Homo sapiens: one gene and its partners. The protein of the gene in region 2 purifies or fractionates together with the protein of the main gene of each other region. This does not show direct contact. Each region holds a gene or a part of one and is shown on either strand. Other genes may lie near its edges.

Region 1 (7,023 bases), on a different chromosome or scaffold from region 2:
CAGTGAGAGGGCGAGGTAGTGAAGAAATTATGACGAATCTCTATGCTTGAAAGCTGTGGCAAGTATGATAGGCTAGAATTATCAAATGTTTTCTACACATGTAGCTAAGCAGATTCAGCTGAACTCTTCAGGTTAAGAACCACTGTGATCCTCAGATACACAAATCTGTTCTTACGGCATTGAAGGAATCTGGCTTTAAAATACAGATGCAGTTTAGTGCAGTTTTTGTGTTAGACAATTGCCATCTCTTAACTCACACGTACTTTAGGACTGCTGCTCAAAACATAACTGAAATATACTAAAATCTTGAAGTCTTTGATAACACTTTACAGAGATCTTAATAAATGCATACTCAAGATATAGCAAGAGATGTCTCTGATCTTCCTTTTAATGCTCAGTGTAGGTAAAGTAGTATTTGGTTTACTATTATATGCTTATTGCTTATTAGTCACTATAGCATTTTTCAGGCAAATTGAAAGACTGGTCTAGGTTAAATCTTAAAAAAACAAGTTTGTCCATTTAGGTCTAGTATACTTTAGCCTTCATGTATTGACTGAGTGATTTGCTTTTTAGGATCAACATTTTTTAATAAAAATCTGAATGAGTAACTCTCCTTTGGGCCAAAGGACAAATTGGGAACAGTCTGCTCTGAAGTTCATATAAATAATATTTACCCAAGCATAAAATGTGTGCTTGGAAGATATAAACTATATAATTTATGCCTAAACTTATTTTACATTGTTTTGATTCCCATCCAAAATAGAATGTGGATCCTGATTGCCTTGCTGCATCTTATACTTTGTCGATTAGTATACCTAGTAATATCCCTTTGTCTTTTTTTTCACAACTCTCCTATCATCTTTCATGAGCACGAGTAAAAGGAAATACTTGAAATTTACAGATGATTCACAAAAAAAAAAAAAAAAAAGCAACAGTCACTAAAGTTTAACAACTCTTTGTTAACTTCTAGGTTTCTAACTGTTCTTTTACTCATTTGTCACCCCACTCTCTTTTCTAAATTAAAGATATAGTCCAAAGGAATAGTTTATTACCATGTAATTATCTTGAAATCTTACTTTTTCAATTTCCTAATTTAAGACTGTCATATCTTGTTGCTTAGTCTTTTCATATTCAATAATTAAAATATATAAAAATGGAAGTGGTTGGTAATGTGTGCACTGCATTTGAAATTGGAGTCTGAATCATTTCAATGCATATAGTCTTTCTGCAGAATAGCGATTTTGAACAGTTGGCATATCATGTAAGTTTTTATAAATGTCAGCATTATGAGCCAATGAACTATATAATGGTCAGATTTACATCACAATAAAATATGAGCATAATAGTAGGGTTTCATATGTGACCATTTGTTACAGTAAAATTTAGACCTTTGGACTATTACAGTACAGCTTCAGTTAAACCATATGAGGAGTCATCACAAAACAAACCTTAAATTTATGCATTCACGTTTGACCATTGTTTTATTCTTCTTCCATTATTCCCTAAAACAATATATAAAATTATATTGCATTGTAGAGTTTGGAGAAGGAAGAATTTTATATTTTGGGGTATCTTTGCATCTGTGCAGAGAAAATGTGTCAATAAAATGTAGATAAAGCCTGTTGCTCATGTGTTTCAAGAAGAAAGTGTCTTTATCATAGAACAGAGTGATACATCTTAGATGTGCATTGATTGCCAATCATTTTTCCTTCACACTGTAGTCAGTAACTAAGTCAAGGCAACTGCAAGATAGTTCAGAAAGGCTAGCATCCCACTTCTATAGGTGTGTGGGAGTCAGAAGACCTGGATTCTAGTCCTGTCTTCTTTAGTCAGTGCCACTATAATCCTGGCCAAGCATCCATTTTCCTGTTGTTACATCTGTCAGATGAAAAGAAGGGTCTTTCCTATGCCAAAGATTAGTACAATAGCAGATAGTAAGAGAACGCTTTGCAAAGTCCTATATAATGTACAAAGCAGATTTTTCCCAAAGTGTTTGACATAAATTATTTTAAAAGTACAATGACATTTGAAGAACCCTGGAATTGATTCTTCTTGTAACAACACAACCAGTTGTGCCTTTTGTTCTGAAACAGATTTTCATGTATCTACTACTTACAGGGGTGAAATCTTGCATATTGAGTCAGAAGTGGGTATGGGCTAGAGATATGAAGGAGAGATGAGTTGAGAACATGAACTACTTTATCTCATGTCCAGCCCTAATCTATTTGACTAGCATGTTACCCACTGCACTTATCTCCTTCCTGCAGGCTTCATTTCTTCTATTCTTGTCTCTTCTTCCTCTACTTCCAGCTTTATGTTTTCCTTTAGTGCCTCTCTTCTCTTAGACTAAGGGGAGACGAGTCGGAATAAATGACAGACTTTGTAGCTTTAAATATTGTCATATTGGTTTTTATGGAGAATATGTTGTACAGAACATAAAACTAATTCATTATGTACTTAAACCAAATTATCAGACACATCTGCTCTATGGGTCATGGTCTGTATGGATAGCCTTAATCACACCAGGTTATATTGCTGTGGAATGGAAGACATTTGTTCATAGTGTTGCTCTTGGGGTAAAAGGGGTTATACCTAAATGTAGACTCTGTCTGAATTACAAGTTTTTAATTTTTTCTTATATTTATGTCTAGGGCAGGAGCGATTTGGCAACATGACCCGAGTATACTACAAGGAAGCTGTTGGTGCTTTTGTAGTCTTTGATATATCAAGAAGTTCCACATTTGAGGCAGTCTTAAAATGGAAAAGTGATCTGGATAGTAAAGTTCATCTTCCAAATGGCAGCCCTATCCCTGCTGTCCTCTTGGCTAACAAATGTGACCAGAACAAGGACAGTAGCCAGAGTCCTTCCCAGGTGGACCAATTCTGCAAAGAACATGGCTTTGCCGGATGGTTTGAAACCTCTGCAAAGGTGAGATCTGCTTTGCTTATGCATCTTTTGCTTTCTAGCTCATAATTCTGAGCTGTAAATGTAAAGTATTTAGATATATTTATGTGAGTGGTGTTTGAAAGTCTGGAAAATGAGAAGTGTAGCATGGATGTGTTATAGCTTCTTTCAGTCCACAACAGGACTGCTTTCCAAATTGGCTAATGGCTAATAGAAGGGCAGATTTTCCATCAAAACAAAAAGAATTATTTAGGGCAAAAAGCAAATGACATTTTCTGTGAGTTTGAGTTTTTAACTGAGGTACTTCTCATGCAACTAGAGTGGTTGGGGGTATTGTCAAGCACGAGAATTTTTGGTTTTTACAAAAGGCTAAGTGAATAGGAAGATGCCTCTGGTGAAGATGTGTGTCACATGCAGGACCATGTGAAAAGATCAGAGAGGAGATTTATTCAGATGATGTTTGAAGAGTTTTAGGTTAACTGTGTACGAAAGATTTGAAACAGCCAGAAAGTATCAACATTTGTGGTATGCTTCATAAACAGTAGAGTGAGAATTTTTTCTTTTGTCTATTATGGAAAGCTGAATAAAATATTTTCTGAAGGAAAAAATAAAACACTCAGTTGACTTTCAAAAATCTTAACAGTCTAGTGACCAGGCACGGTGGCTCATGCCTGTAATCCTAGCAGTCTGGGAGGCCGAGGCAGATGGATCGGGCAGATCGCTTGAACTGGGAGTTCGAGACCAGCCTGGGCAACGTGGCGAAACCCTGTCTCTGCCAAAAATACACAAAGTAGCTGAGCATGGTGGTGCATGCCTGTGGTCCTAGCTTCTCGGGAGGCTAAGGCAGGAGGATCACTTGAGTCTGGGAGGCAGAGGTTGCAGTGAGCCGAGATCATGCCACTGCACTCCAGCCTGGGTGACAAAGTGAGACCCCATCTCAAAAAAAAAAAAATCTTAATAGTCTAGATATAGAAAAAAGGTGAAAATTATACATATATAAAATGTTTGGGGGGGGGGTTACGTGCATTGGAACTTTCACATAAGGGGGTTAGTGACAATCAGATTTATGTAAGAATGATGAAATGTTTGAAAAATTCTGTGATGACAGATAAACATTATACCATAAATTTGTTGAAATCATAACACAGTTCTAGCTTTTAGTTTATGTTCTGTGGATTTCTTGTGTGTGTTTACGGGTGTTTTTATATATGTATGTATGTATGATTGTTCCTCCAAATCACCCACCTCATTCTGGATATTTACTAATCAGATTAGGTTTAGCTCTACTAGAAACTTACCCTTAGAGTGAAAAACTACTTGATGCCAATGATGATCTGCGGGATAAAAGCGAAGCAATGAGAGACTGCACAAAAGGAGACCGCTCCAAAAATATTGCGCAATGATGGAGTCACTGGGAAAAAAAAGACTGTCTACTGCAGGCAGAAATGTACACTCCTAAGCTAGAGGCTAATTGTTTGAATAAATATAGCATCTTAAAATTTCCTTTCATAAATAAAACATAGTGATAGAAGAAAGATGAAGCCCAGGAGTGCTATGTGAGCACTTAATCTGACACGAAGGAGAAAATCACAGAAAGAAAGCCTTCTTATAGAGAAGTCACCTCATTCTCCCAAGAAGCTAGGACCACAGGCATGTGCCACCATGCCCAGCTACTTTTTGCATTTTTAGTAGAGACAGAATTTTGCCGTGTTGCCCAGGCTGGACTCAAACTCCTGAGCTGGAGTGATCTGCCTGCCTCAGCCTCCCAAAGCACTAGGATTACAGGCGTGTTCTTCTGGACACTCATGCCCTCTGTCTGCTCTGTATGCCTATTGGGTGATTTGCTCTACTTGCCAGCTTTGCTGTAAAAAGACGAAAAAAAAAAAAGGGGCAGTAAGTATAACTGCTTATGCGAGTGTGCATTTTGGTGGAGGAGTTTTATAAATGATAGACAAAATTCCCCTTTAGGCTCTATTTAATCTTTCAGATAGTAAATCCAGATTTGCCCCCAGATGTAAGACGTCATGTGACTAGTAGCTTGTGACTGTGTAAGTCATCGGTTTCACTTTATGTATGGATAGGATTACACGCAGAGGTGAAAGGTGAAACGCTGGTTAAGAGTACAAGTTTCAAGTTTGCTCTGTGCTTCCATACAAATATAATAGAAGCAGCTTCTGTAGAATTTCCTTAGCAGTAAACCAGACGTGTTCCAAGAGAATAACAGTAATAAAAAAATTTAGGTTAAAAATCTTAGAGTTAAGGCTTAAAGTACTGCCTAAATGTCACTAAGGTACACTTCTGAGCTGGCCTGCAGCTAACTTCAGATCTGACTTTTGCTTGAATTGCAGTCATCCGAATTTCACTAGGAACATAGGCAAAAGATAACTTTTGCAAATAAATTTCATCATTTCACCTTTATGGCAAATAATGGATTTCTAATATGAAACTTTAATAATATTAACATATGGGAATTACATTAACATGTGACTAGTTACACTATCATTGGAATTTTAACCAACTGCTTCCAAATACAGTTAGAGAATTTTATAATTATTTGATATAATGGGGATAGCTGGGACTGAATGTCACTTGGACATTCAAAAGATCAATACTTGAATTAAAGTTAACACTTATCTTGGGAGTGGAGGTAAAAAATAAATAAAAAGCTTGTTTCAGTGCTATGAAAGATGCCTGTAAATAGCACAGCTGTTTTAGGTTTCTTGTTGTCTGAGAAAGGGTTTACAAATAAGGAAAAAGGCTACAATGAACCTCATAGCATTGGATTGGATTAGACATTAATATGAGCTTCAGGTTTCATATGTGTGTGTGTGTAAGAGTATATGCATATATATATGTGAGTGTGTATAGATATATGTATGTACACACACATATGTGTAAACAGATAAAGAAGTTGATACAGATGCATGTGTGTATACATACGTTTATTTACTAGCCATACCTGCTGAGAGGGCTTAAAAGGAATGACACCACAGAACCAATTAACTTACCTCGTGCTCAAAATTCGGTTTTTAAATATCATTCTCCAGTAAAAAGAATGGGAATCTCTAGAGAAATGCCTGATTTTAGGACGGGTGGAACAAGTCAAGTAAAGATGTGCCTGAGATATTTTGTTGTGCAAGAAACTAAGGAAATGCTTACAAAATGATGGGGACATGTGACAAAGATACAGGATACTGCCATACAAGCTCCAAACATGTAAGACAATTTGAGCAACAAACTAAATAATTACTGTAATGGGTTCAACTTATAGAGTAAACTAATAATCCATGATAAAAATGAACAAATGAATAAAGAAATGGGGGAGAAGGGAACCTCTTTCTTTTTTTATTTTTATTTTTTTATTATACTTTTAAGTTTTAGGGTACATGTGCACAACGTGCAGGTTAGTCACGTATGTATACATGTGTGGAACCTCTTTCTAACAGTAGAATTCCAGCTAATAAATGTAGAAGGAATGGCAGAAATAAAAAAGTCACCATTAAACACCACAGTGATGATTGTTGTAGGGAGGAATTAATTGATGATAACATTAGTGGGGAAAAGTGCGGTGAGAAACAGGATATTTACATATTTGCACTAAGTACAAAGGGAAAAATAATAACTTTTCTGTGGAGAAACATGGCAAAAACAACTTGAAGCAGTGTGCTTCCTGATAAACTGTGCAGGGTACATCACTTGTGTTTTATTTCTGCCAAAAATACATACGTTGAATTTAATGATAAGGAAACATCGAACATCACAGATGGAGGTATATTCACCGGCCAGTGCTCTCTGAGAGTGTCAAGGTCATGAAAAGCAAGGAGAGTGAGGAACTGTTCGAGAGTAAAAGAGACCAGGGCGACAACAGTGAAATATAGCTTATGATCCTGGATCTGAAATAGGGCATTGAGATAATTGATGCAATTTGAGTAAGCTTTTTAGGCTAGCACTGATACAACACTATTATGTAATTTCCTGATTTTGATAGTTGTATTCTGGTTATCTAAGATGTTAACATTTGAGAAATATGTGTGAATGGTAGGAATGTTTACTTTTTTTGCAATGTTTTTGTAAATCCAAAATTATTTAAAAATGAACAGTTAAATATATTTAAAAAT
Region 2 (7,276 bases):
TGACCATAGTCGAGTTATCATAATAGGAGAAGATGCTCTGGAAGCTGTCTGAGATGGAGGCAGTGTGCACTGGCCTGGCCGTCTGGATTTCTGTAGCATTCTTCTCATGCTTAATGCTGTACAGATAACTTGGGATGATGGGGACTGGGGATAAGAGCAGAATGGCAAGGTGGTGATCACACTGAAACCCTCTCCAGGAAAAAAGCCAGCAAAAAACTATGGTTGTGTCGGCAGGGAGCAGTGGCTCACACCTGTAATTCCAGGACTTTGGGAAGCTGAGGCAGGTGGATCACCTGAGGTCAGGAGTTCGAGACCAGGCTGGCCAACATGGAGAAACCCTCTCTCTACTAAAAATACAAAAATTAGCTGGGCGTGGTGGCACCCACCTGTAATCCCAGCTCCTTTGGAGGCTGAGAAAGGAGGATCGCTTGAACCTGGGAGGTGGAAGTTGCAGTGAGCAAAGATTGCACCACTGCACTCCAGCCTGGGTGACAGAGTGAGACTCTGTCTCAAACAAACAAAACAACAATAACAACAACAAAACTATGGTTGTGTCAAATGCCAGAAGAGGTCCAGAGGGTGACAGGTCTACCCCAAAACAGGAGCCCTGTGCCATATGTCTATAACGACATTGGAGCAAGTTCACTTTACTTAGCTCACTAGAAAGAACCATGCCCCCAACGGCCCTGAGAACTGTCTCCTCTCAAAAGGCAGCTGCTGTGCTGAACTGACTGGTCCCAGAGATTCTGTCATTTGTGGGTTTCTTCCACATTGTTCCTTCAAGGAATATTTCAGAAAAGCAAAATGTGGCCTGACGTTAAGAGAGTGCTGACCTGGAGTCAACCAGTGCTTCTAAGAAAGAGAGGCTCAAAAGACTTTCAAATGAATGAATCAAGGAAACAGAAAACTACACTTCATTATGTGTCTTAGAAAAAAATTAACCTGCAGGAAGTAATAACTTGGAAATTCTGCAACAGGCCCACTTCATCCTTCTATTATGAGTGGGAATCTGTAATTTTTCCTACAACTTGTAAGATTTAAGAATTCCTAAGGCTTTCACAAGGAAAAAGCAAAACTGAAACAGGCCAGGCACGGTGGCTCAGGCCTGTAATCCCAGCATTTTGGGAGGTCGAGGCGGGTAGATCACCTGAGGTCAGGAGTTCAAGACCAGCCTGGCCAACATGGCAAAATCCTGTCTCTAATAAAAATACAAAAATTAGCCAGCTTTGGTGGGGCATGCCGGTAACCCAGCTACTCGGGAGGCTAATGCAGGAGAATCACTTGAACCCGGGAGGTGGAGGTTGCAGTGAGCCAAGACTGTGCCACTGCCCTCCAGCCTGGGCAACAGAGTGAGACTCCATTTCAAAAAAACAAACAAAAACCAAAATAAAAAGCAACAACAAAAAATACAAATTAAATTGTGAAACATATAATCGAAGCTGTGAGCACATGTGTCCAATGGAGCATTCGAGCCGAAGCAGAACTAATGCCGTTGGTACTGAACAGGGATGAGCTCCACGGCTCTGATAACTCCTCGAGATGAAACCTATCAGATGCTCTGAAAACTGCTGTGAGAAAACCTGCAAATGGAGAGAAAGGAAACAGCTCCCACCACTTACAGTCTAAATGAGTCGTGATTTTTTTTTCATTCATTAAAAACTGGGATTTTTTTTTTTAAGGAAATGCATGCCAAATACTTCTCTGTTAATGGGCCTAATTAAGGGACCTGGATTTCGATTATTTAATTTTTCAAAATTCCACTATAGGAAAAATAATAGAACCAAGATTGTTCAAATTGTTCTTGCAATGGTTCCTGAAATATTTCCATCTCAAGTCATTCACTAATACAGTATATCTAAATGTCTTGTTTTTGGAGTAAGGGATCGAAACTTGCTCTTTTAGGTACTACACCAAATTACTAACCTGCCTTTTCGAGTAGCCCAATAATTATTCTAACACGTAATTTTGAACTTTAGGAATTTCTCTTTTGGAACAGAAATCTTTTTCATCGCAGTGAAAGCAGGCAAGAGGATGCGGGAAATTATCAGGGGGAAACATAAGTTCTGGGTCTTATCGGATGTCACAGTTTTTGACCCGAGCATCAGGAAAGCGAAGCCACACAACGCGGCTCCTCCTAGCCCCGGCGCGGCAGCCTGGAGGGGATGTCTTTTTTGCAAAGCGAGTTCTCCAACTTTCCCGGGCCTTGGCGGAGCTCCGGGACCGCGCAGGGGTAAGTGGAGTGCCGGGGAAGGGGCGCTGGGGCTGGGGTGCCGGGGCAGGGGTGCCCTGTCCGCACGTACCCACGACAGTGAGCAGCATGTTGTCCAGCAGCAGCGCCAGGAACACGATGAACAGGATGAGCTTCCGCGAGCGGCGGCTCTCCTGCAGCCAGCGGACCAGCGCCAGCTCGCTCAGGGCCATGGCTCCGGGGCTCCGCTGCGGGCGCGGTGCGCGGTGAGGACCCAAGGCGGCCGTGGACCCCCCATTCTCCCGTCCCCCAGGCCGCGGAAGGGCGGGTCAGGGAGCCGCGCGCACCGGCATCCGGGGACACCCCCGGGCGCCCCAGCCTCGGCTCACCTGCCTCGAGCGCGTCCCCACGAGAGCCCGCGCTCCCTGGAAAGAGCGCCCGCGAGCGCCGTCGGGGACCCAATCTGGAGACCCAACCTAGAACCCCCAGGACGCTGCCCTGATCCCCGCCGCCCCCAACTGTGCCACCTCCCAAACTGCACGCTCGGCCCCGTGCACCTTGCGCCCTGCGCCCTGCGCCCCGGCTGCCCCGGGGTCCCCGCAGCCCCGCCCGCGTAGCTCTGGGGGCCTCCCTGCCTCCCTGCCTCCCCCGGGCCCGCTCCCCTCCGGCACCGCGCCCTGCGAGCAGGGAACCGGGGCCGTGTTACCTCGGGGTCGCTTGCGATGCCTGCCCGGGTCCTCCGTGCCCGCGCCAACGCCCGCACCGCAGTGGGCTCCGTCAGTCCGGGCGGCTCCGGGTCGCAGTCTCCGCCCCAGCGCCCCGCCGCCGCCGCTCAGTTTACCCCGTCCGGCTCTGACGTCACGGCCGGAGGGAGCGGGGGCGGGGGGCTGGGGCGCCCCGGCCTCCGCCCGCCCGCGCCGTCGCTGCGCAGGAGGGGCTGCCGCCTCCCTGTCCCCGCCTCGGCCGCGGCCGCGCCTCTTCCCCGGACCCAGCGCGTGGCCGAGTGCCTTGGGGACCCAGGCCTGGGGAAGAGGCAGGGGCGCAGAGGGAAAGAGGTCAGAGAGCCTGGACGAAGAGTGAAGGGCCAGGGACCAAGGCGAGGAGGCACGGACCAGGGCTTTCTTGTGGCTCCAAGTGGTGGCTCGAGCTGCTTTGAATAAATCACGTGGCTCTTTGAGCCTCAGTGTCCCTGAAATGGGCCGTGAGGACGGGAATGATGGCCGCGGGGTGAGATCGCCAGGGGTGACAGGTGCTGGGAGCCAGGGACAGGCTTCCCTTTCCTGAAGAAGCCACCCTTTGCACCCACCATCCCCTCCCCTCTCCGACCTCTGCAGCCCGATGCGGGGTGCCACTCGGAGGAGCCTTTGAGCCTTGGGCATCCTCAAGCTGGTGACTTGGAAACGGGGGGGGGAAGGGGACACTTTTCAGTGTCGCCCTATGGTGGGAGTTGGGGAGGTGAGGGTCCCAGGTCTCAGAAAGTGGGAGCAGTGGGTTTGGGCCTCTGGGGCCACCTGAGCAGGGGACCCTGGAGGCTAGGTGAGTACACCTGGCCTCAGAGAAAGGGCTAGGGGGCGGGCTGTGGGCGGGGCAGCAGGCCTAGGCCCTGTGTCCTGTACTCTCTCCCCACCATGCTGTGCCTGGGCGTCTGGGTGAGAGGTGGTTCCTAGAGCCAGGGGCCTGCGTGTGGCTGGTGCAGAGCTGTCATCCTCACTGCTAAGGGCTAAGAGCCTGCCTTTGATTTCCAGGTCCCTTTTATAAGCAAAGGAGAAACAAACAGATGCCCTCTGACATCGCTGGAGCTCTGCAGGCCCTCCGAGGGGACCGTGGGAGCAAGAGCTGTTTTCTTGAAAAGCTACCTAGAATAAATGTTACCCTGTCACAGTCTCTTAGCAGAAGAGTGGGCTTGTTTTATTAATGTTAGCTTGTTGACAGCAGGAGGCCACTGAGAACAGCAGTGTGATGTGTGGCTGCCCCCGCTCTCTCCACCTCCCTACTCCCTTGCAGAGACCCCCTGTGCTTCTCATTGCTACCCCATGTGTGAGAAGAGATGGTTGAATAGGTAAGTAGGTCAGGAACATGGGTCTCCAGGATGTCACAGGATGTGCACAACTTAAACATTAAACAGGGAGGACAGAAGGAAAACCACTTAGGAGGAGGAAGCAGATGGCAGAGAGCCGTTTAAGATGGCAGGAGGGTATCACTCAGGGAGTGCCCCAGAGTGCTTGCTCTGGAGTTTCAGAACCCAAGGATGCAGACTCTACCCCAGGGACCACATGGGGACAGAGAGGCATTATGGTAAAGGGTGCCTGCCAGGATGCCCAGGTCCCAGTCTGCTACTTCCTTGACTGGTGGCCTTGGGCTGGTTATGTATCCTCTTTGTGGCTTAGTTTCGCCATCTCTGGAATGGGGATACTCACTGGACCTACTGCAGCGTGGTTGTGAGAATTCCAGGGGAATGCATAGGCAGCTCTTAGCACAGTGCCTGGCACAAAGTGAGAGCTCCGTAAGTGCCGGCCCCTCATTCATGCGCTGAATATGTGTTGAGCTCTTACTACGTGCCAGGCACTATGGTTAATGCTGGGGAGACAGTAAAGCCTAGACAAATCCCTGCTGACATTCTGACCTGATAGCAGCATCATAGCAGTGAACACTGGAAGCCACACCAAACTCCAGCCCAGCCAGCTGGATGTAGATGGCTCCAGGGACAATGCCAGCCCGGCGTTCCCGCCTCCGGATCACTGTCACCACCCCTAGAGCACTATGGCCTATAACAGACTTTTTGTTGAAACCCCCTAAAAAATGTTTAACAATATGTTTGCCTTACACATTTTCAAGTTGGCATCTAAAATGAGTTTTTTAATCATATATTTAAATAGGGTATATTGTATTTATTGACCTTTATGTATAAAATTATTATCTCTCTCTTTTAAATATACCCAAAGGAATTTGTATAAGAATACAAAACTGCCATGTTATACTTAAGAATATAAACAAGTATCCCTTTAACAGTCAAAATATTTACATTGTGTTCTTTACCCCTTTTAAGTATGTTTCCATTCCGTTTTCCAACAGAATTGTATCCTACCCTAATGCTTTTATTGTTTAAATTCTGTATTCATCACCTATCTATTATGTGAACCACAATAAATATGTGAATATGCATTAGCTTTTTAAAATTTTCTACACGTGGACATAAAGATGGCAACAACAGACCCTGGTGGGGACTACTAAAGGGGAAAGGGAGGGAGGGGGGAAAAGGTTGAAAAACTAACTCTTGGGTACTATGCTCACTACCAGGGGGACAGGATCAGTCATACCCCACACCTCAACATCACTCAATATACCAGTGTAACAACCCTGCACATGTACCCCCTGAATCCAAAACAAAAGTTGAAAGTATAAAAAAAAGTTTAGGCACAGTGACTCATGCCTGTAATCCCAGCATTTTGGTAGGCTGAGGTGGGAGGATCTCTTGAGGCCAGGAGTTTGAGACCAGCCTGGGCAAGATAGTGAGACCCTCTACAAAAAAGTTTAAAATTTAGTTGAGCATCGTGGTACACACGTGGGGTCCCAGTTACTTGGAAGGCTGGGGTGGGAGGATCACTTGAGCCCAGGAAGTCAAGGCTGCAGTGAGCCATGATCACACCACTGCACTCTAGCCTGGGCAACAGAGCAAGACCCTGCCTCAAAAATTAATTAATGATTAATTAATAAGGCTCTAAAATTCTCTTTAGGATTATGTGATTATAACAATGATTAATGGTATTTAAGTGATCAAGACATCATACACAAATATGTATTCTGATAAATAATTATTAAACATAAAAAGGAAAATTGTCTTAAAAGTGCATTACTTAAGGGATGGATAGAGAGGGGATTTTTGGAGTCTTGCTGAAAGAGACACCAAAAGTGTCTCTGTTTGGTGCCGAGGATGTTTTTGTGCCTCAGGACACTGTATACAGGAAGGGGGTCAGACTCAGGTTAGATAGGAAGGGAGCCTTTCTTTGCCCAGGGGAAGATGGGAGACTGTGGAGAGGGGAGGCCATGCAGGAGCATGTGCATGTCCCCACCCAGGTCCATATCAGCCAGATAAGCTTTAGAATGGAAGACATGAAAATTGAGGGTCTCAAACGGCTCGGGACATCTTCATATACACTCAGTGTCCTGCCATTCCAGCCTGAAGAGCCTCCACGGCCACTTCTCAAACATCTTAGCCCTCGCCTTCCCCCTCTGGCCACAGTGGTTCCTCTCAGCATTTCTCTGCCCCAGGGCCTTTGCACATTTTCTTTCCGCTTCCTCTTCTTTTCTAGTTATTTCCTCATGGAGGAAAGCATGCTGTCCAGCATCAGACAGGCCCCTCCCTTATAAACCCTCATGAAGGTGTTACTTCTCCTTTTTACTTCACTTCCTCCTTTGAGTAACCCTCAAAGAAACATTACTTCCTCTAGAGTTACTTCCTCTCTAGAGGAAAGTAACTCTCCCTCCTCTCCCTCCACTCACTTGCACCTTTTTTAGACACTGGGGACTGAGGAGGTACAAAGGTGGTACCCGAGTTTACTTTTTCATTACATTTCAATAATTGAGAATGATAATTTCTAAATTCTATTTAGGAAGTAGCCACCTGGGACATAGCAGTTATTTGAAATAGACATTACTGGAGATGCACTAACAGTTTAAGCTGTAGACAGCATCCTAGTGGGGTCTCTTACAAGTTACATGACCTTGGTCATTCTACTTGACCTTTACATACCTGTTTCTTATCTGTCTCTCCAGCAGGATAACAGTCCCTCCCTCCAGCATAGTTATAGAGAGAAAGTGGGATGGGCCTTGCCTAGTGCCTGACATTAGGTGTTCTCTGTTACTGGAAAATGGAAACTGCTGGATACAGGGAAGGTGTAGGTGTTTCCTGGGGGAAAAATCCTCAGGTGCTCCCCCACCAGAGAACTTGGAAACAAGGACAGTACCCTCACCTCCTGGGCATTAAGCTGTGACATTCAAATAATGGGTCAGAGCAGAAACGAACAAAACCATCCCAAGAGACTCAGTGGTTCCTAGCCTAGCCCAACCTGGCGTACTAGTTATCACAGA
Region 3 (7,023 bases), on a different chromosome or scaffold from region 2:
CCCACCGTGCGCCTGAGACCTAGAACATTTATGCACAATGTTTTGCACTTTTCTCCCACTTAATAAGATACTTTGGAACATTTTCTCTAATGGTATATTTAAAGTGCCTCACTTTTTAATACTTTGGTTTAAAAAATATCAAAGTAATATATGCAGCTAGGTTTAAAACTCAAATAGCATTGATAAGCTGATAATGAAAAAGAGCAGCTCCTGGCCCAGACTCGCCTCCTCCACTGTTTTTTTCTTTTCTTTGAGACAGTGTCTTGCTCTGTCACCCAGGCTGGAGTGCAGTGGTGCGATCTCAGCTCACTGCAACCTCCACCTCCTAGGTTCAAGCAATTCTCTTGCCTTGACCTCCCTGGTAGCTGGGATTACAGGGGTGCACTACCATGTCTGGCTAATTTTTGTATTTTTAGTAGAGATGGGGCCAGGCTGGTCTTCAACTCCTGGCCTCAAGTGATCTGCCCGCCTCAGCCTCCCAAAGTGCTGGGATTACAGGTGTGAGCCACCGCACCCAGCCCTCCTCTACTTCTCCTCACTGTCCAGAGGCAGTTACTTGTTTCTGCAGATAGTTCCTCCCATATTTCTAGAAAATCTGCATGGACTCCTATTTTGCAATTGAGCCATTTTAGGTATTATCTATTGACCTCCTGTTATGACAGAACTCTTCCATTCTCTCTGCCCCTTCCCCACAAGTAGTTATCAGTAATTGGGGTTGATGTCATAACATTCCCTGTGGAGCCAAATAGAGGACTATGATTTCATTTCCTTGCTTGTATAACTTTGTTCTTTCTATAGTTAAGTGTCTCATTATGTCTCGCATCCATGACTGTTTAAATCCATAAGGCTTCTAGCTTTCCCAATTGCTCCAATGGGTCTGCCCTGGTCCCTTTAGCATCCTGACCCCATCTAGGTGCACCTCTCACTAGGCCTGGGCAAAGCTGTCACCCTGGAGCAGTGGTTCTCAAGTGAGGGTGAATTTGCCTTAAAGGGGACATTTGGCAATGTCTGGGGACATTTTTGGTTGGTACGACTGGGGAGGGGTGCTACTGGCATCTAGCAGGTAGAGAGGCTGGCGATGTTGCTAAAAATCCTACAACGCACAGGACAGCCCCCCCAACAATGGTGCCCAGTTCAAGAGGTCAATAGAGCCAAGGGAAAGAAATCCTGCTCTGGAACTTCTAATCATCCCTTTGAGGACAAAACCACCATCCTAATCTGTTTTTTAAAAGAGATTTATTGAAGTATAATTCACATTCCATAACATTCAATTATTTAAAGTACACAATGTAATGGTTTTTGGTAGAGTCACATAGTTGCCTGACCATGATCACAGTCAATTTTAGAACACTGTTATCCCCCCTGCAAAAAAAAGCACCTTATGGCTGGGTACAGTGGCTCACACCTGTAATCCTAGCACTTCTGGGAGGCCCAGGTGGGTGGATCATGAGGTCAGGAGTTCAAGACTAGCCTAGCCAACACGGTGAAACCCTGTCTCTACTAAAAATACAAAAATTAGCCAGGCGTGGTGGTGCATGCCTGTAATCCCAGCTACTCCAGAGGCTGAGGCAGAAGAATCACTTGAATCCAGGAGGCAGAGGTGCAGTGAGCCAAGATTGCACCACTGCACTCCAGCCTGGGAGACAGAGCAAGACTCTGTCTCAAAAAAAAAAAAAAAAAAAAAAAAAAAAAAGCAAGCAGCCCCTTACTTGGCCGGATGTATGGCTCATACCTGTAATCCTAGCACTTTGGGAGGCCGAGACAGGAGGATTGCTTGAGCCCAGGAATGCAAGATTGGCCTGGGCAACATGACGAAACCCCATCTCTACTAAAAATCAAAAAAATTAGCTGGGCATGGTGGCACAGGCCTGGTGGTCTTAGCTACCTGGGAGGCTGAGGCAGGAGGAATGCTTAAACCTAGGAGGTCAAGGCTGCAGTGAGCCATGATCACCCCACTGCTCTCCAGCCTGGGTGACAGAGCAATACTCTGTCTCAAAAAAGAAAAAAAAGCCCTATACTCATTAGCAGTTGCTTCCTATGTCCCCACACAACATCCTAGCCCTAGGAAACCACGAATCTACTTTCTGCCCCTATAGATTCACCTATTCTGGGCATTTCACTAGGCATAATGCTTTTGAGGTTCATCTACGCCACACCAAGTGTCAGCACTTCATTCCTTTTTATCGCCAAACACTATTCCATCGTACAGACAGACTACATTTTGTTAATGCATTCATCAGCTGACAGAGCCCCTTGACCTTCTCACCAGCTGCGTAGCAGCCCCATCTATGGCTGTACTGAATTGATTTACCCCGCCTGCTCTGGGAGGCGTCTGAGTTGTTTCCAGCATTTCATTATTACAAATAGGTGAGCAGGACCTTTTACAGTACGGAAGTCCATGCTCTGCCTACACAGAGGTAGGGAAGTGCGGTTCTTGTGTTTATTTTTCCTTGATGAAAACAGAATTCTCCCCTAACCACCCTGTCTATCTACTGAGTGGCCCTGGGGGTGTCACTTACTCCTCATCAGTCTGCACGCAGTCATCGAGTTCGATCACATGGCTCCCAATGAACCAGACCAAATTGGAGAAGTAAGGAACAGCAGTTTTATCTCGGATGTAGTGCAGCATGGCCTGGTTATCCACTGAGAAAATTCACAGAAGAAAAAAAAAGTCAAGCTACCAAAAATAACTTGGGGAAGATTAAAAAAAAAACAAAAACAAAGCAAAACCCAAAAACCACAATGAAAAAGCCCTCTGCTATAATCTGAAATTGTCTGTCTTTCCTGGAAATACTTAAAAATGTTTATCTTATTCATAAAACTATAGTCATCAAGGCAGTTCTTATGATATTTTATACTTAAAAATAAATTAGTTGGGCTAAACATTAATGGTGCATGGGAGAGCCTACTTATCAGTAGCAGACTGAGCTAGACTACACTGAGAATTACACCATTCTCAAGCAAGGTATTTACATATAAGGGTAGATTAAGAAAGCAGAAAACCAGAGGTTAATAACTTACATGACACTGGAATAAGGAACACAGGAATCGTCATTGAAGGAAAAGCAAAAAACAGACAACAGTTAACAGGGTTAGGACCTGGGAAGGTGAGAGAGCTGCTCAGAGGGAGAGAGACTAGGGTGGGAGGCATCTGCACAGAGAGATAAGGTTAGAAGGAGACAGGAGAAAACAGAGCAGGAGGCAGCAGAACCAACTGTGGCTTGGACCAGGGTCACAATCTTACAAGCCTGCCACGTTGGCTAGTTGCCAGAGGTCCAGCGTGTGACCTGGGAGCACGGGCCTTGACCCCAAAGGGGCAGCTGCTTCTGTGCCAGCTGACCCCCCCAACTGCAGGACTGTGGGCCTTGACTAGCCAAATCTACATCTTCAAGGTGCAAATCCAGATTATCATGGAAGATCTCCCAATTTTTAAATACTGGCAACTACACATTTTTTCAAAAACTAAGCCAGTTAAAACATGTCTGATGGCTGGATATGGCCCACAGGTCCTCAGTTTGCGACCCCTGGGTGGGTCCAGTTGGGCTCTTAGAAAGGTTCTTAAATTTAATGTAAGCCCAGTGCTAGGCTGGAGTGAGTCCCTGAGAAGCCCCCACCCTCATTAGGGAGTAATAACATTTTGGCTCATGAAAGTCAAAGCCCTTTCATCCCTGAGAAAATAGTCCCATCTCCACTGTGGTGACTCCGGGGAAAATAACCCAGGAATTAGGCAGAGAACTTCCAAGCATCGCCTTGGAAGGGCAATTCCAGTTCAGGAAACTTGTGGCCAGGCAGCCTTTGTGTCAGTGCAGCGGAGAGTGGGGGAATGGCTTTTTCCCTGGGGCAATGTTTTGGGCATTAAGAACATCTTGAGGGAAAGGAGGAATTGTTAGTGCTGGGCTTTGCAGCCTGTTGGGAATACAACATTGCCCCCTGCTGTTCACAATGTGACATGCTTTTATATATTACTTAAAAGTCAAATTACCCCTTAGCTGTATTAAAGTATATTTCACAAGCCAAGACACAAAAATTTAAATGACACATTAAAAAGACAACTTTGCTTTCTCAAATTCTAAAACATAGCCACTCTGAATCCCACACGTGCCTCTCAGGACATCCTACTTCTATGTAGCAGCATGAGCAAGACTTCGACATGCCTGGAGAAGGCAAGGATTTCCATGAGCGGCCAGCTAAATGCTAGGGGATTCCAAGTTTTTCATGAGAGAAGCTGCCACGGCTCATCATCAATGTGCTCCCTCGTGACAATCGGAGAACTGTACGCACACACACGGGAGTGAGTGCTTGCTGCCAAGTCAGAAATCAGCCGAGACACAAGCCCATGAGGACACTTACCTTTATAGACATTCAAAGTTATGGTTCTTACAGCAATTCTAACCATGCTTTCAGGGTGGTTGAAAAACTTGATGGCTTCTGTGTACAGGGCAAAGTCATTGGTGTGCTAAAACAAAAGAAATAACGAAAACAAATTATAAGCCCATAAGCCAGGCCTGGCCCCACCCCAACTCTCTGAATTCCATCAGAGACTTCAGAAAAAGACAAAAAAAAAAAAAAAAATGTTGCCAATGTGAACCGTAAGTCAGTGGTTCATTCCCAATGGGGCATGTAGAAAGGGACAGGAAGGCAAAGCCATGGAAGAAACAGAAGAGTCCAAGTCCGTGTGGTGGTGCACACCCATAGTACCAGCTACTTGGGAGAGGCTGAGGTGGGAGGTTGGCTTGAGCCCAGGAGTTGGAGGCTGCAGTGAGATGTGATCGTGCCACTGCACGCCAGGCTGGGCAACAGAGCAAGACCCTGTCTCAAAACAAGAAAAAAGAAAAAAGAGCAGTAGTAGTGGTAGTAGTAGTAATCACTGATTGATTGGCTGGGAGTGGTGGCTCATGCCCAGAATCCCAGCACTTTGGGAGGCCAAGGAGGGGGGATTGCTTGAGGTCAGGAGTTTTGAGACCAGCCTGGGCAATGTGACGAGACCTCATCTCTACTTTGAAAATTATAATTAAAAAGAAAATGAGTCCAGATAATGTCAGACCTGGGTTCATTACCCATTCTACCACTTCTAACCTGTGCAATGCAGTATTTCTAAACCTCTGTTTCTACATCTATAACATGGGGATAATAACATCTACTTTATGGTTTCCAGATTAAATGAGATCATTTCTGGTCTTGTGCTTATCCCAGCACCTGACACCTAAGAAGTACTCAGTGGGATGCAGGGAAACATGAGGGGAAGGCTGGTGAGAACCTTCTGAGAAAGTTTTCTTTGGAAGTTAAAAAGGGACACAAGAAGGGAAGTGATCTCATCAGGCATTTTGGCAGTGGCAGCCAACCTGTGACCATGAGGGGTTGAACCTGAGGATGGATGCCAGCTGTATAGTCAGCAGAGCAGCAAGATGGGAAAGCCTGGGTCCTCGCTGATACTGTTGAACCACAGGATGAACCAGCCCCAGCACGACCAGTGCCTGGACCTTTTGGTGTGGGTGATACATTGACCCTATTGTTCAAACCCCTTTTAGGTGTGAGGACAGGAGCAATTTATTTATTTAAGTTGTTCATTTTAATAATTCTCCCAAAGAATGTCAGGGACATTATCTTATCAACAATAGCAACGTCTATGCTTTTAGGGAGCTATGTACATACTGGCACTTTGAAGACATCATCTCATTTAATTTAACCCCTAATAACCCTACAAGATGTATATTCTTATCCCCATTTCTCAGATGAGGAAACTGAGGTTCAGAAAGGGACTGGGACTTCCTTAAGGTGACACAGCAGGGAAGTGACAAAACCAGCCCTGACTGGAGTTCCTGTTTTTCCCACAGGGCAACACTTCCCCAAGACAACATCTGGGCATGTCTCCTCTCTACCAAGTATAAAGCTCTCAGAACAAACTGAATTTTACATTAACAATGGAAAGGCTGGCCAGGTGCTGTGGCTCATGCCTGTAATCCTAACACTTTGGGAGGCCAAGGTAGGAGGATCGCTTGTGCCCCGGAAGTTCAAGGCCAACCTGGGAAACATAGTAAGACCCTGTCTCTACAAAGAATTACATTTTTTTAATAGAAAGGTAACTTATTTAATTAAAAAAATTTTTTAAACATGCCAAAGTCAAAAGTGTTGCCATGAAAATCATAACAAGCATATAAGAGCTTTGTAAACAGACACAAGACCATCCAGATATAAGGCGCTGCCGTAAAAAAAAAAAAAAAAAGCCACGTGTGGCTTTACACCCACACGTGCCCCTCTGGCAATTACTTACCTCATTATAAAAGAAATGGACAGTGTGGTTGTTGAGTTTTAACGAAAGTGTTTTCAGGAACGATATATAATAGGCCATAATCTCCTCATCAGAAAAGTCAAATTTATGAACGATGATAGAATTTACGTAGTTATTTGAGAGCAAATAATCTAGAGGGAGAAAAAAACAAAACAGGTTAACTCATGCTGGAGGAAAGATAAGCCAGGTAACAAGCAGATGACCACGTTAATGTACTTGAATCAGGTAAGCCTCTGGGTTGCTGGGATTAAACACACTAACTGGGAAGAGCTTAACTTTTAACCAGCAAAGAGATCATCTTCAATGTACAGTCACCAGGAAGTTCAAAGGCATCACCAGAGAACAGCCCTTCCCCGCCCTCCCACACCAAATAAAAAAAAGACACTCCAACATTTTCTTTTCATTGATGGCAAAGTGCAACAAAGAGCTGGGAGTAGGGGGAGATTAGCTGGTGTGTGGGCATTTTCACAAACCACCCATGAATGAGGGTAAAAAGCTGCCCCCTTCTGCCATCACAAATCACATCATCAACTCTGAAGGCCACAGTAGGGTTTTTTTCCTCCTTATATAGCAACATGATTGCATAAAGGTCCCTTCCTGCTGAATCCCTACTACATGCCGGCCACTAGGCTGAGTGCTTTACATGACCATTAACCATCACATGATCCTGCTCATTCTTCCCATTTTGCAGATGAGCAAAAACATCTCGGAGATGTTAACTTACCCGTGCACAG
Region 4 (8,017 bases), on a different chromosome or scaffold from region 2:
TAAAAAATGAATTCAAATGTCAAAGGAGTTACCTTAACGTAAGGCAGTGCAACTGATCACACATCAGGATGTACTTACAAATTAGTCTCCATGAAATAATTATGATCATGATTGAGATTGAAAATGTGGTACTGGCCAAGTGCAATGGTTCACACCTGTAATCCCAGCACCAACTGATCGATCACATATCAGGATGTACTCATAACTTAGTCTCCATGAAATAATTATGATCATGACTGAGACTGAAAATGTGGTACTGGCTGGGCGCAATGGCTCACGCCTGTAATCCCAGTACCAACTGATCACACATCAGGATGTACTCATAAATTAGTCTCCATGAAATAATTATGATCATGATTGAGACTGAAAATGTGGTACTGGCCAGGCGCAATGGCTCACGCCTGTAATCCCAGCACTTTGGGAGGCCGAGGCGGGTGGATCACGAGGTCAGGGGTTCGAAACCAGCCTGACCAACATGGTAAAACCCCGTCTCTACTAAAAATACAAAAATTAACCAGGCATGGTGGCGCATGTCTGTAATCCCAGCTACTCAGGAGGTGGAGGCAGGAGAATCACTTGGAACCCAGGAGGTGGAGGTTGAAGTGAGCCGAGATCACGCCATTGCACTCCAGCCTGGGCAACAGAGCAAGACTCCATCTCTTTAAAAAAAAAAAAAAAAAGAAAGAAAACGTGGTACTGAGACACAATGGGTCACCCTATACAGACTTCCTCAACATAACTGCTTACACCGCACCTGTTTCTTTTCAGGTTTTTCTTTCCTCTCTTATTTTATTAAGTGTTATGCTGCACAATCACATGAGAAAAAAAATCCATCAGCAAGAGATATACCTTTGCTTAAGTTCCTTGGAGGCCCGGAAGACCGACTGCAGGTTGCTGACATCCACCTGGACAATGGTGACCTCAGCAGTGGGGTGAGAGGCCAGCAGAGCAGCACAGACAGCTTCTGCCTTGCTCATGTTCCTGCACGCCAAACACAGATGAAGCTCATCATCTTCCGCCAGCAGCCGCTTGCAGAGGGCCAGGCCAATGCCACTGGGAGGACAATTCAGACACAAGATGTGGGTTATCTGGGATGGCATCAGGTACAGGCATTTCTCTCTGGTTCAGAAAACTGTGTCAAGTTGACCTCCAATGAGAAGCCCAGATAGAAAGAAAAGACTCAACAATTATTTAAGAAGGGAGGAATCCTACACTCCAATAGTCACTTGCTTGAGACACAGCCTAGTTTGTGTTTTTCTCATTTTGAAAAACTTCAATGACAAAATAACTGGACTGAAAACAAGAATTGTTCTTTAGTTTTTCTACTACTGGGCTTTATCCTGCCAGTGGTTTTCATTTTGTACCTATTATGTCACTCATGAAAATGATTTAATATATCACCAGTAAGGGCTCAAAAGAGCATCTTATTAGCTGTTTCCTATGTGCATTTTGACTTTGCTGTCTAGGCTCCTCAGGGGCAAGGGCTCTACCACCTACTGGTATCGTAAACACCATAAGGAGCACCAGAAATCTCTGATAAAGGAACAGATGAATCTTTCAGGATGAGGCATCAGTAACATGGCAGGATGTACAAATCCCTCTCAACAACTATGATTAAATAATAGAAAAAGAAAGAACTCAACATGATTAAGTAGAAGGTAGGAATACACTAAATATTAGATGAGTACACCACTTGGAAACAAAGAACTTCAAAACCAGCATTGTAAAACCGCATAGGAGTGGTGACAGCAGTCAGACCAGCCTGGCTGATAGCAATGAAAAGCTGGGTAATAAGTTCTCTTTCAAGACTTAAGCTGATTCCAGGCAAATATGTTAATAGTTAAAACCCAAAAAGAGCCTGGAACCATCAGTAATCTATTAGCACCAACAACAAAGCATCAAAAATATTTATTTGTCCTCACATGAGAACAGTAGGCATTTAATATACAATTGCACATGTCACAATATATGTAAAAGAAACAGACAAAATCAATTCTGACTTACTCAGTACCTTCCACATAAGAAGCACCAATCAACGGTTAAAGTCACTTGAGAGGGTATGCTAAAAAGTTGCCAAATGCAGACACCTACCAAGCTGGCTTAGTTAATACGCATGTGGTTAAATAATTGAAAGTGGATCAATCTTAAATGTTTAACATGTCCTCTGTCTTAATCATTTAAAAATGCCAAATGCAACTAGTAGAAAAATGGTTTGATTGGCTTCATCCTCCACACATTTTTCACAGAAGTGCAAATGACAGGTAAAACAAGCAACAGAAGAGGCTGAGAGACTAAACGAGCAACCCTGGAATTATTATGAGCTGGTTATTCTGCACCCCAACCATGCCTTCATAGGAAAAGATTAATTTTCTCTGGGTTTCTGAAGAGTATGTTAGCTCTCTAGCACTGAGCTAAATGAAACGGGATTGTTTTCTCTCCACCGTCCTAATGTTCATGGGTGTTCAAATTTGTAGGCAAAAGGCTTGTACAGACAAAACACCTGGAGTATAAGACATGATCACGTGGTCAGGAGCAAAATATTGGGCACTGACGATAAATACGAACAGTAGGCAAAGATGGAAAAGGGGCGGAGCCCGCCTGAGTACCCCATTGCCTTGATAACCTCAGGATCATCACTGCGACACTCATCACTTACTGATGCTCTAGTTTTCCTTTTCACTGTCATGTTTAATACAAAGCACCAGTTACTGAGCACCTCAAGAGGCCGACATGCCCCACACCTGCTGCAGACTCCGGGGAACCTAGGCAAAGCCAGGGGCGGGCGCTTCCGGGGTCCGTTCGTGGAGGGTCGCAGACCCCTGCTCTCTCGGACCCCTGATCCGCTGCCGCCTCTGCCAACCCAAAGGAGGCCTCACCTGCTAGCCCCGGTGATCAAAACCACCTTTCGCATCTTCGCGCACTCACACTTCCAAGCAGTGAAGCAAACACCGCCGCTGCTTTCGGAAGTCCTACGATTTCGGGCCGCCTCACCCGTCACCAATCAGAGTACGGCCACGCCCCGCCTCCCGTTGCGTCATCGAGTCTGAGCTGATCCCTCCAATCTCAGTCCGCCAACCGTTCCCTGCCCTCGGAGACGGCGTCGGGTGAGATAGGCCGAGGGGCGGAGCTGCGTGACGCAAAGCCCGGAGCCATTCCAGGCTCTTCTCGCTCCGCCTAGGCGCAGGTGTCTGTCACTGCTTCCTAGGGCTCAGCGGGCGCCTGATCTTTAATCCTGGTGGGGGCGTCACCCGGCCTAGCACTCAGGACAGGATCTGTGACACGCACTGGGTCTGTGCCCTGGCGCCTGAGATTGGCACTTCTTTGCAGGAAGGCCTCACGGTATTTGCACCAGTGCCCATTTTAGAGAAAAGGTTTGGGTCTAGGAGCCAAAGTTGGGCGATTATCATCTAATTTTCCACTCCTTTTTGGATGTACAGATCCAGGCATTGTGCCACTTCACAGCCCAACTTTTGATCCCAGACCTCCTCCTCTAAAGAAGCTTATTTGAGAAAATGAGCACTGATTTTATTAAGAACTTTATGTAGAATCAGACGTAAATTACCAGTATTCAAAACTTGGAATGTGGCGTGGAATCAGAATCTCAGAACTTCATTCTCCGAAGTACTGAGAATGTGCTGTAACCTTCTGTATCAGTGCATCTCAAACTGTGCTAAAGGACCTGTTTTTGTCTCCAAGCCATCCCAGATGGGTGCTTTTAGAAAATACAAAAAAATAAAGTGCTAGAAAAAGAAAAGCAAAAGGCATACAAAACACAAGCCCCGATATTTTATTATTAGATCCAAGACATATAAAAGTACTCTGCCAAAATGAGGCAGAATAGGGTTTGGAGGCAGGGTACTTAAGGCCACTTCGTGCTGACTTCCTAAAGCTCAATCAAGGAAAAACAGCAAGGGCTGGAAGTAGGGAATCTGAGACCAATTGGTGCTGGCTTCCCAAAGCTGGATCAAAAGGAAAACACCTGGGTCTGGGGGCCGAGAGCCTAGGGTCAATTAACACCAACTTCCTAAAGCTAAACCAGAAGGAAAAACCCCATCTCCCCACTCCCCAGTAGCAAAGGATCAAAGGCTACTCTCCCTACAACCTTCTGTTCTCAGACCAAACTGAGGGTTGGGCTGCTATTTTTCAAGGCCCAATAACGAGATGCAGATGAGCTGGGGAGGAAGAGAGTTTTTATTTCTGTAACCGGTTGCAGGGAGAAGGCCTGGAAATTATCACCAGACCAACTCAAAATTACAGTTTTTCAGAGCTTATATGCCTTCTAAGCGAACTGTCTATGTGTAAGTGTGCATTTATCTAAAGACATAAGTGATTAACTTCTTTTAATCTGTAACTAAGGTCTGAGTCCTGAAAACCTTCCTCTGGAGCCTCAGTAAATTTACTTAACCTAAATGGGTCCAGGTGCTGGGGTGATTGCCCTTGTATTCTCTCCTGCTAAGTGGTGGAGGTTTGAGGAGTTCTCTTAGACCCCCCAATAAACTTGTTTGTGGAGGCCTGGGGAGTTTCTTCAGACCACAATAAAACTTGTTTAATCCTAAAGGGGTCCGGTTAAGAATTCTTTCTTTATTTTGTATGCTTTAAGAGGCCCAGGAAAGGCCTAGGCAAAATTCTTGATGGGCTTTTGTTACATCCCAGCCTTTGTATAAGGGCACTGGCTTTTAATATTTAACCACTTAGTACTGAAACAGTTGTTAGTGAGACCTGGCCTGCCACACTTCCACCATGTCTCAGATGGAAAGGGAAAGTGCCTTGGATTGGCTGTGGGCCAAGCACTAAGCATGGGCCATGCCATCATCTGCATAGGGCACAAATTCACCTCAGCCTTTACTTAGCCATAAACCAAATCCTTCATCCAGATAAGGGGTAGCCCATAGGGACCTCAAAAGAACTACTTAAAACCCAGAAAACTTTGTAACTGGGCCCTTGAGCCACTTGCTCAGGCCCACTCCCACCCTGTGGAGTGCTTTCTCAGTTTAATAAATCCCTGCTTTTGCTTTCGCAGCTTCATTCCTTTGTTACTTTGTGCATTTTGTCCAACTTTTCGTTCCAAATGGCCAAAAACCTGGACGACTCACACTCAAGGCCCTCCTTCCAGTGACAAAACTGCTATAAAGGTTTCTAATGCTTACTCTAGGTTTCTGTATTTGTAGTAGACTGGTAATGGGACCATCACTAGCCCCAGCTCATGCAGAATAAAACTGTGTATCATACATCAAACGCTACTGAACATACTTTATTTAATGGCCTCTTTCAGTGTTTTAATTATTTATGAACAGCAATGATCCATAAAACACTGAGATAATTTATATTGGCTTTTGATTCTAGAGGTTTTGATTAATGATACCAACTTACTTAGTAATCATTTATCCTATATCAATAAAATTAGATTGAAAGAACAAATCTGGTTATTAGAACATTAGATTCCTAAATAAAATTTTTTTTTTTTTTTTTTTTTTTTAGACAGAGTCTCACTCTGTCAGCAGGCTGCAGTGCAGTGGCGCAATCTCGGCTCACTGTAACCTCCGCCTCCCGGGTTCAAGCAATTCTCCTGCCTCAGCCTCCCGAGTAGCTGGGACTACAGGCACACACCACCACACTCAGCTAATTTTTGTGTGTGTATATATGTATGTGTATATATATATATATATATATATTTTTTTTTTTTTTTTAGTAGAGGTGGGGTTTCATCGTGTTGGCCAGGCTGGTCTTGAACTCCTGAGCTCAAGTGATCTGCCTGCCTCGGCCTCCCAAAGTGTTGGGATTACCGGCATGAGCCACCGCGCCCGGCCAATAAAATTTCTTTATCATGGGGGTGGAACTCAGCTCCTACGCTTATCCCACTTTCAACTGTTCTAAAGAGACCACAATTTAACAACATTTTCTGAAAGTCATGGAGTAAAATTAAGCCTAATTGTGAGAGTCTAGACCCAAAGACTCATTTTAAAATGTTCTAGAGCTCAGAGGTGATAAGGAATAAGAAGAAGACCTGGTTGTGTGGCTGTCCCATAAAAAAATCATTTCTATAAAGAAGGGAGAGGGCCTGGGCTGTGGAGGCTCAGCATTACCGCAGTCTCGGGATGACCGCCAGCCTAAGACAGACTGAATTAAGTGAAGTCCAGACAGCTTCAGAGCAAGACCGTCTGTCTCTCCTTTCCCCAAGATTTTCATTCAAGCCAAGTGATGAAACTGCTCTCTTCTTCCTTTTTCTGCACTAAAGTTGCTGCTTTCAAGGTGTTATGACTTTTGAAAGATGGGCTGAACTGCTAGAGGTGCTCAGAGAGACTAGAATAGAGTTCAAAATAGATGCCATTTAATTTTATATTTTACAAATATTTTATCACTCATAGGACACAGCTTGATAACCATCATAATATGTTTTTATTGATGAGTGAATGGATAGGTGTGTTTTTTTTAATCATCATAAGTTTATGTTTTGCATGGGCTCATTCTGTTCTCCTGGAAATCAGAAGAACAATAGGGTACACAATGATCCCATCTATCCCTGCCAAACCTTGGCCCTGTGATTTATCTACCATACCCCATGCTGAAAAATGTGCTCAGAAAACTCACATATTCTGAGAAATATTCTCAGAAAACTAAAAGTATAAACTTATTCTCAGAGACCAGGTAAGAAATGGGTTGTTTGGGGTCGTTTCATTCTAATCTCTAGTATAATGACTGAGTCTAAATTCTGGTTTTCATAGTTTTTTTTGGTTTGTGCATGTGCAGGTAGTCTGAGACAGACTATATTTGGATTTAAAAAGGATTTCTGTGTATCAAACAAGACAAGTCTGTAACCATAACGATAAGGGATCACCAGTTAATTCTAGACTGGATTCCCCAGAACTGGACTAATTAATGTGAGGACGTAAAATCCCAGTGTCTCGTATGTTTGGATATGTCAGAGACCAAGATGCTTTCTTCCCAATAAACAGTCAACTCATATGTTAGAGGTCTATTTAAATAATCCTTTGCTGGAAAGCCCCACAAACAGGTGTCCATACCACATACACCCCAGCTCTGGGCCCATGCCCCATCACTTCCCCAGGAATGAAAGACTATAAAGAGCAAAGGTTACAAAGCCCAGAACTGGCACTGTTTATACAGAAAGGGAGATCCATCAGTAGCATGACTCTTTAATCATTGTTATTTACAATTTATCATCTGACAGACTTACAGAGAATAAATAAAGAAAAGAAAATATACAATTGGTATCACGTTTCTTTTTCTAATACAGAGAAATTTTACATATTCTATTTGGAACGTCTATGATAGTTTTAAGCAGAAATTAAATCCATTTGCCCTTTACCCCTTGACAAGACACATCATCTTCCAAAGCCTGCAGAAGGGGGCCCAGATGTTTCCTCATCACAGGAAGAGTGCACCACATCGCTGCAGAAACTCAGTCCTCAGAAAAAGTTACCAGGCAACAAGGTAGAAGAATAGGATATCATGAATAATAAAGGACATATAATGGATAGGCTAGATTACAGACTCTTGGTGTGTTTGCAGGAAGCCAGCTTTCAATTGTGTCCAAGCCTGTTTTCAAGAAAACAGTTTTTCACTGAAAGTGATTACCTTATCCCATTGTGCTTCCCTTGAGTCTCTGCAAATTCTTCCTTGACATGTTCATTGTGATTGTGGATGAGCACAGGCTAGCTTGGGACTCAGATTATTTTCCTGCAAGGCACCTGACACTGTTGCATGTTGTTGACAAGGTGTCTGCAGGAGAAACTAGATAGCTTGTTTCAAATAGGCTGGGTATGAGGCCAGAGTCTGGTCTCTCCTTTTGATTCGGTGTCCTGTGGAGAACTACCTTTCATTGCTGTCTAAATGCCTCAAAAAATTAAGCAGTTCTATAGATCAATTTCTCCATCAAAAAGTATACAAACAGAGAATGCACTTCACCAGGAACAAGTCTGAGTAATTTTTTTCTCTTTCCTCACTTGAAAATAAACTCTCCATGTTACAAGCAAAACAATTCTCCCTACATTCACTC

Evidence for each region.
Region 1: the proteins of SLC18A2 (region 2) and RAB32 purify together in Homo sapiens (co-immunoprecipitation; 2 studies listed by BioGRID and IntAct, with this or other methods). This does not show direct contact.
Region 3: the proteins of SLC18A2 (region 2) and CLEC16A purify together in Homo sapiens (affinity purification with mass spectrometry; 2 studies listed by BioGRID and IntAct, with this or other methods). This does not show direct contact.
Region 4: the proteins of SLC18A2 (region 2) and HSD17B7 purify together in Homo sapiens (co-immunoprecipitation; 2 studies listed by BioGRID and IntAct, with this or other methods). This does not show direct contact.

What each region holds. Positions count from the first base shown.
Region 1 is NC_000006.12:146,546,813-146,553,835, forward strand, and holds part of RAB32 (ras-related protein Rab-32), read left to right. Parts: intron 1-2,651; coding exon 2,652-2,929; intron 2,930-7,023. UniProt on the Homo sapiens protein: The small GTPases Rab are key regulators of intracellular membrane trafficking, from the formation of transport vesicles to their fusion with membranes.
Region 2 is NC_000010.11:117,236,839-117,244,114, reverse strand, and holds the start of SLC18A2 (synaptic vesicular amine transporter), read right to left. Parts: upstream 3,002-7,276; 5' UTR 2,895-3,001; intron 2,455-2,894; exon of another isoform or gene 2,437-2,454; 5' UTR 2,422-2,436; coding exon 2,301-2,421; intron 2,231-2,300; exon of another isoform or gene 2,118-2,230; intron 145-2,117; coding exon 1-144. UniProt on the Homo sapiens protein: Electrogenic antiporter that exchanges one cationic monoamine with two intravesicular protons across the membrane of secretory and synaptic vesicles.
Region 3 is NC_000016.10:10,968,558-10,975,580, reverse strand, and holds part of CLEC16A (protein CLEC16A), read right to left. Parts: intron 6,421-7,023; coding exon 6,272-6,420; intron 4,457-6,271; coding exon 4,351-4,456; intron 3,028-4,350; coding exon 3,022-3,027; intron 2,644-3,021; coding exon 2,520-2,643; intron 1-2,519. UniProt on the Homo sapiens protein: Regulator of mitophagy through the upstream regulation of the RNF41/NRDP1-PRKN pathway. Mitophagy is a selective form of autophagy necessary for mitochondrial quality control.
Region 4 is NC_000001.11:162,785,695-162,793,711, reverse strand, and holds the start of HSD17B7 (3-keto-steroid reductase/17-beta-hydroxysteroid dehydrogenase 7), read right to left. Parts: upstream 3,011-8,017; 5' UTR 2,912-3,010; coding exon 2,877-2,911; intron 1,054-2,876; coding exon 850-1,053; intron 1-849. UniProt on the Homo sapiens protein: Bifunctional enzyme involved in steroid-hormone metabolism and cholesterol biosynthesis. Catalyzes the NADP(H)-dependent reduction of estrogens and androgens and regulates the biological potency of these steroids.